Linked DNA regions of Homo sapiens: region 2 is reported to be linked to region 1. The links are microRNA targets in miRTarBase. Many come from high-throughput screens and were not tested one by one. Region 1 holds a microRNA gene; the other region holds the end of a gene's coding sequence.
What was found. Region 1 holds the annotated microRNA hsa-miR-6722-3p (UGCAGGGGUCGGGUGGGCCAGG, at 2,182-2,203, shown strand). A microRNA usually pairs through its seed, bases 2 to 8, with sites in the 3' UTR of a target mRNA and lowers its output. Matches are read on the target gene's strand: a 7mer-m8 pairs with bases 2 to 8, a 7mer-A1 pairs with bases 2 to 7 and ends in A, and an 8mer does both.

Region 1 (3,448 bases):
ATGGTGGGCTGCAGAGGTGGAAGGAACAGGACAGTCTGTTCTGGGGGTGCTGGCTGTGGGGGACAGAGGCCAGGCCACAAAGCAGAATGGTGGGTGGGCCAGGAGGAGGTGGGAGCCTTTTTCAAAAGGCTTTCAGGGACTTTTTATATTTAATGATTGAAACAAAAGATATCCAAAACCGCAGTTCCTGAGAACCACTTGTTCTCGCCCTGGTTCCTCTCCTTGGGCTTGACCTTGGCCTCCTGCCGGGCCTGGCAGCGGACAGCAGTCTCCCTGCTTCCCAGGCTGGGCGAGGGAGAGCGTGGGTCCCCAGGAACGGGGGAGGTGGTGCGGCTGGCTTTAGGATGCCCATTCTGGAACCTTCTGGTGGAAGAAAGCAGGGGATCAGTATAGTATGGTTGATCCACACACTCCAGACCCTCTCCTGGCTGTGCAGCTGGTCTGATCTGGGCTCAGAGGCTGCCACTGCTCAGTGCTCCCCTGGGTAATTTTGCAGGAGGCCAGGAGGGTTCCTGGCAGTTAGTGCCACCCACACGGAGAAATTCAGAGCCATATAAACGGGTCTCCAGGGCCTGGAGGGACTGCACATCCTGGGCCTGCGGCGCAGTGTAGACCTGGGAGGATGGGCGGCCTGCTGCTGGCTGCTTTTCTGGCTTTGGTCTCGGTGCCCAGGGCCCAGGCCGTGTGGTTGGGAAGACTGGACCCTGAGCAGGTACAGTCCTCCTGGGGGTGGGGAGAGCTGGTCCTCGGGGGCCAGCCCCTCCTTTAAGGCCACACAGCTTCTGGGCCCCCCAGGGCTAGCCCAGACCAGCATGAGCAGTGGGGAATTAGTTGGGCCAGCCCTTGGGGAGTCCCACAGGCAGGAGCCTCAGGGCAGGAGGGGTGGATGCTGGAGGGTTGGAGGCTGGAGGGCTGGAGAATTGGAGGCTGGAGACTGGAGGTTGCAGGGCTGGAGGGTGTAGGGTTGGAGAACTGGAGGCTGGAGGGCTGGAGGCTGTAGGGCTGGAGAACTGGAGGCTGGAGGCTGCTGGGCTGGAGGCTGGAGGGCTGTAGAACTGGAGGCTGGAGGGCTGGAGGCTGGAGGGCTGCAGAACTGGAGGCTGGAGGGCTGGAGAGCTGGAGACTAGAGGCTGCAGGGCTGCAGGCTGGAGGTTGGAAGGCTGGAGGGCTGGAGCCTAGAGGCTGTAGGGCTGGAAGGCTGGAGGCTGGAGGGTTGGAGGTCTGGGGGGTTGGAAGCTGGAGGCTGGAGGGCTGGAGAACTGAAGGCTAGAGGCTGCAAGGCTGGAAGGTTGGAGGCTGGAGGGCGGGAGGGTTGGAGACTGGAGGCTGGAGGGCTGGATGGTTGGAGGGTGGAGGCTGGAGGCTGCAGGGCTGGAAGGCTGGAGGCTGGAGGGTTGGAGGCTGGAGGCTGGAGGGCTGGATGGTTGGAGGGTGGAGGCTGAGGCTGGAGGTTTGGAGGCTGGAGGCTGAGGCTGGAGGGTTGGAGGCTGGAGGCTGGAGGCTGGAGGGCTGGCGGCCCTAACGGGAGCCGCCTCAATGCAGCTTCTTGGGCCCTGGTACGTGCTTGCGGTGGCCTCCCGGGAAAAGGGCTTTGCCATGGAGAAGGACATGAAGAACGTCGTGGGGGTGGTGGTGACCCTCACTCCAGAAAACAACCTGCGGACGCTGTCCTCTCAGCACGGGTGAGTGGGCGGGTCCTGCCAGGCCTTCCCGCAGGCAGGACTGTGGCTCAGCCACATCATGTACTTTGCACATCTGCTCCCGGGCACCGCGGCCTGGGGGCTTCCCACGGCCCCTCTGCACCCCCGTCACTTTTCCCACTGGGCTCTGTGCAGAGCCACCAGCCCTCTGCCCAGCTACTCACATCTGTGTCCCTGGGGCCTCCAGGTGGCACTCCCACCTTCAATACCGCGGCGGGCACTGCTCTGACTATGCTCCTTCATGCATCCCTGTCCTGGGTCATCTGGGCTGCAGGCTGTGGTCAGAGCTGGGGAAGCCTGTCCTCTCAGCAGGCCTTTTTCGGGAATTCTGTTTAAAGGAGGATAATGCATTCGGACCTAAGAACCACTGGTTCTTTCATAACATAAATCCCCAAACAATATGGTCATGGACGCTGTTGGCCAGACTGGCCTTGTGGCCTCAGGCAGGCGCACCCGACCACATGCATGGCTGGTGGCGGCGTGCAGGGGTCGGGTGGGCCAGGCTGTGGGGCGGCCGTGCTACACAGGGGACACCTACAGGGCAGCCGGGCTGTGGGGGTAGCCGTGCTGGGGCAGGAGTCGGTGCCCGCCTCCCTTCACAGAAGAGTGGCCTGCTGGGTGGCGTGGTGGGTGTCTACCCCCTGGCAGGCTGGCGACAGAGCCCAGGCCTGAACCACTGAGCCAGGTACGGGGCCCAGAGAGAAGAACCTGCCCTCCTCACCAGCGTGCCTTCCCCCTGCACCTGCGCCTGCAGGGTATGGGCAGGGGCCCCACTGCACCCCCCGGGCCAGGCCTGGCCTCAGGGCGAGCTGGGACCAAGGGGCTCCAGGCTGAGGTGGCAGCTCCCACGTGGCTTTCCTAGTTCTTCTTGCTGTTCCTCCCGCATGGACTCAGCCTCAGTTTCCTTCCTTGGCAAACACCATTGCACCTTTGCTGGGTTTTGCTCACTCTGGGGACTGACCACTTAGGGAGCGCCGGCCCCTTCCCCCGAGTCGCAGGCAAACCCCCACCCCGCCCCATCCTTCCCCTGAGTCGCAGGCGAACCCCCACCCCACCCCATCCTTCCCCTGAGTCACGGGCGAACCCCCACCCCGCCCCATCCTTCCCCTGAGTTGCGGGCGAACCCCCACCCCGCCCCATCCTTCCCCTGAGTCACGGGCGAACCCCCACCCCACCCCATCTTTCCCCCGAGTCGCGGGCGAACCTCCCGTCTGTCGAGTCTCCTGTTGTGTCCTCAGCAGCATTCAGCGTTCCTGGTGGAGATCTGGCACTGAGGATCTCTCAGGAAGTGAATGGGAGTGTCCGCCCCTCTCAGGACTCCCACGCCGTCCACTCTCCGAGAACAGGTTTCCGGGCATCGGGGCATCTGGCAGAAGATGGAAGCTCTGGCCTCACTGCTGGCTGGCCTGGCCTGGACTCCTGAGCTCCGTCTCCTCTCACCGGGCCCCGGGGTCTTGACCCTGAGTGGGTGACAGGCCCCTTCTTTTCCAGGCTGGGAGGGTGTGACCAGAGTGTCATGGACCTGATAAAGCGAAACTCCGGATGGGTGTTTGAGAATCCCTGTGAGTCTGACGGCCACGGCCTCACCCAGGCCGTTCTTCCCTGCAGCATCCCCAGGCCCCCTGCGGGCAGGGACGGAGGGCTGACTCCGCTCCCGAGAGCCAGGAGGCTACAGGTTCTGGTCTTGGGATTGCTGCCCATCCTGAGGGTGAAGAGAAGCCCCTGGACAGAGGATTGGAACCTTGTTC
Region 2 (3,000 bases), not on the chromosome of region 1:
AAGGGCATGGTCAGAGAACTGAAAGGAGTTCCATATGGCTACAGCACAATGATGGCGGGAAGACGGAGAGACAGAAGCTAGACCATGTTTGTAGATCATGCTCAGGACATAGAAGAATTTAGATGACCCACTGAACAATTGTAAGCAAGGAAGCTAAGATCACTGTAGCTAATGGTACTTAATAGCTTGGATTTTCTCATTTATACTAGTCTTAATAATCAGAAATAGGACATTTTACTAAGTTTCAACCATTAACTGTTTATTATAATAATAATGAAAATAAGCTTTTGTATCTAAAAGGATACTATATGGTTACAAACATGTTACCTATCGCATTAATTTTACTAATCCCCTTTTAACCTTCCTCCATATTTCTTTCAAAGATATTTCTCATACTATCTGTTTGAGTCTATCAAATTTCTCTGAGGTACTCACTCATTTTCAAGCAATGTATATCAGAATTTGAATGTTTTATAACAACATGACTAAGCAAGATGTTACTAAAATCCATATGGGTCAGTAACATACAAAAAACCTGATGAAATTATTTTTAAAAAGTTTATATTCCACAGAGTTTCAGTTTCCTATTTCCTTAATCTATGTATTTATATACATACATACAATATAGAAAAGTTGATGCAAAAAACATTGGCTTGAATCTGAGAAGCTGAATTACATGTTCGTATTATTTTTTACTTTCCTCATCTGCAAGAGGAAAAACTTATGGTCCTTGCATATTTTAAAGACATTAATAAGAACAAATGCCATCGTTTTCAGGTAGTGTGCTAGGCACATTACATTATTTTTAATTATCCTAATACCCTTCAAAAATAAACATAACTCTTCCCATTTTACAGATGAAAAAATAATCTCAGTGAGTTTATAGGTGACTTGCCCAAGACTACAGACCTGAAATTTAAGCCCAATACGGCAGGCTCAAAAACTCTGGTTACTATACCGGATGTCCCAGACTGTTAACAGATTGAGTTCCAAAAAAAAAAAAAAAAAAAAACTGTCACATATGAGATATTAAATCATAAAAATAGATTTTTAAATGATAAAAATGTTTTGTTCAGTTGTTAATAAACTGTGTGCAACTTAGAAACATTAGCCAAACACACCATTCTTATACAGGTATATTTTTCCCTTCAGCATAATAATTTGATTTCCATTTTTTTTAATATTGGAGAAGAGAGATAAAAGGAGGCCGTAACAGATAAGCACACTGTATTAAAGGTCCAAGAATTAGCACTGAGACACATTTTTTCCAGTTAATCCTTAATACAAATATTAAATCCAATTAACTACCAGCAACCCACTACCTATTCTCACAAAATTTGTTTCTCAAAGTTAAAAATTACAAATGGCTGGCCTACGATGTTCCTGAATCAGAAAAACCTAACTTCTGATTAAAACCTCTAAATGTCACTATTTCTGTTAACTAGAAAGGAAACAAGTCTGAATAAAAGTACCATAATTTGCTCTAAGCAGAATCTACAGATTTATTGTATTGTGAGCTATTCCTCCTAAGATTTTTCAGGTAGCCAAGTCACCCACCAAGATACTGTTTGAAGAAGACTAGATATTTAGCAAAATGAAACTGATGCCAGATTATTTTCATTTTCCTTAATAAAATACAAACAAGAGCACAAAATTCACTTATATATCATCATTTTATACTTATAAATAATGCTCAGAATTCAAATAGGGTCAAGTGCAGAAATATTTCCTATATGCTAGTGTGTAAATATAAACTAATTATATACATAATGTGCCTTTGGCCCAGTTGTAAAATAAAAGACATCAAAAAGAAACACTGCAGTTGACTGTTTCATTGCATTCTCACTGAGAATTCGTACCAGTGCCAACGTAGTTACAGTTCTACTTAACTGTTCCACTGCATTCTTATTGAGAATTCGTACCAGTGCCTATGTGGTAACAACTTTCATACCGCTTAATGTAAACACCTAAATAGACATTTCTCCCAGTTGTAAATATCTCAGGAGCTAAAATTCTATCAATTTTTAATAATGAAGTAGTCAAAATCTTAACCAAGTTTCATTCCTTAAAACAAACACAATTAGAGAACTTACTCTTAACCAAAGTTCTTCCTATGTCAAAATGGATATTTACGGGTTATACATACAGAAAACAAGAAGGCAATCATGTTTGCTTACTTTTAGAATGGACAAAAAAGTATCTAAAAGCTGTCTCAATAGTGTGGGTCTTTGTACATTCAAAAGGATCTTACTTCACTGATATAACTTGCTTTTAATTTTAATACCCAGTATATATAACTTTGAGATGTTCAAATAGCTAGGCAATCTGAATTCAAATGATACACAAGCATACCCTTAGAGGGGCAAAAAAAGTAAGTGCCACCGAAAAAGCAATAACTGACATCAGTAAGACTATAAATATCCAGTTGAAGGCACGTGGAAGCATTTACTACTCTGCCGTCAAAGATTCTCCACTTAGTTCAGGATCAGGAATAGAATCAGCTCCAGGAACTGTGGAGTTGGTTTCAATCACTGAGGCTTCCTCATTCTCAGTCTCTTGTTTCTCCTCTGGTTCCTCTGAGTCAGATGCTTTTTCAATCACTTGGTTTGTCTGTTCTGTAGCTGGTATTTTGTCATCTGTCTGCTCTGTATTATCATCAAGAACATCGTGTTCTAAAGATTCTGAAAAGATAAAGATTCAAAACTTTAGGAATACCTGAACGTTAAAACTGCTAAATAAGGCAAGCAAAAAAGATAAACACACACACACACACACACACACACACACACACACACACACAAAGAAACCATACAATTGTCTAACATTATCCTTAAAATCTTTTACAATAAGTACATAACTCTCTTTACAGTTAGTATGATAGAAGAAAAAAAAAGTAATTCAGAGGAAAAAAACCCATAAATATACTTTTTCTAATGTCCCATATTTTCATACAAAATAAGTTACTAAAGACACATCTGAAAGTTGAAGTCCAAAAATCAT

Region 2: the mRNA of LNPK is a reported target of hsa-miR-6722-3p. The part of its 3' UTR that is shown has no 7-base or 8-base seed match.

The regions. Positions count from the first base shown.
Region 1 is chr9:136,745,658-136,749,105 of GRCh38, reverse strand. MIR6722 (microRNA 6722) reads left to right here and starts at 2,136; the gene lies at 2,136-2,213. LCN6 (lipocalin 6) reads left to right here and starts at 581. Exons shown (of 7, transcript NM_198946.3): 1 at 581-712; 2 at 1,543-1,682; 3 at 3,192-3,262. The coding sequence starts at 623. It overlaps LOC100128593 (a long non-coding RNA gene), which reads right to left and starts at 2,945. Exons shown (of 3, transcript NR_033913.1): 1 at 2,905-2,945; 2 at 534-2,028; 3 at 1-360.
Region 2 is chr2:175,927,519-175,930,518 of GRCh38, forward strand. It overlaps LNPK (lunapark, ER junction formation factor), which reads right to left. Exons shown (of 13, transcript NM_030650.3): 13 at 1-2,681. The coding sequence ends at 2,449. Among named protein-coding and RNA genes, the nearest start is that of LNPK, 73 kb to the right of the region's middle.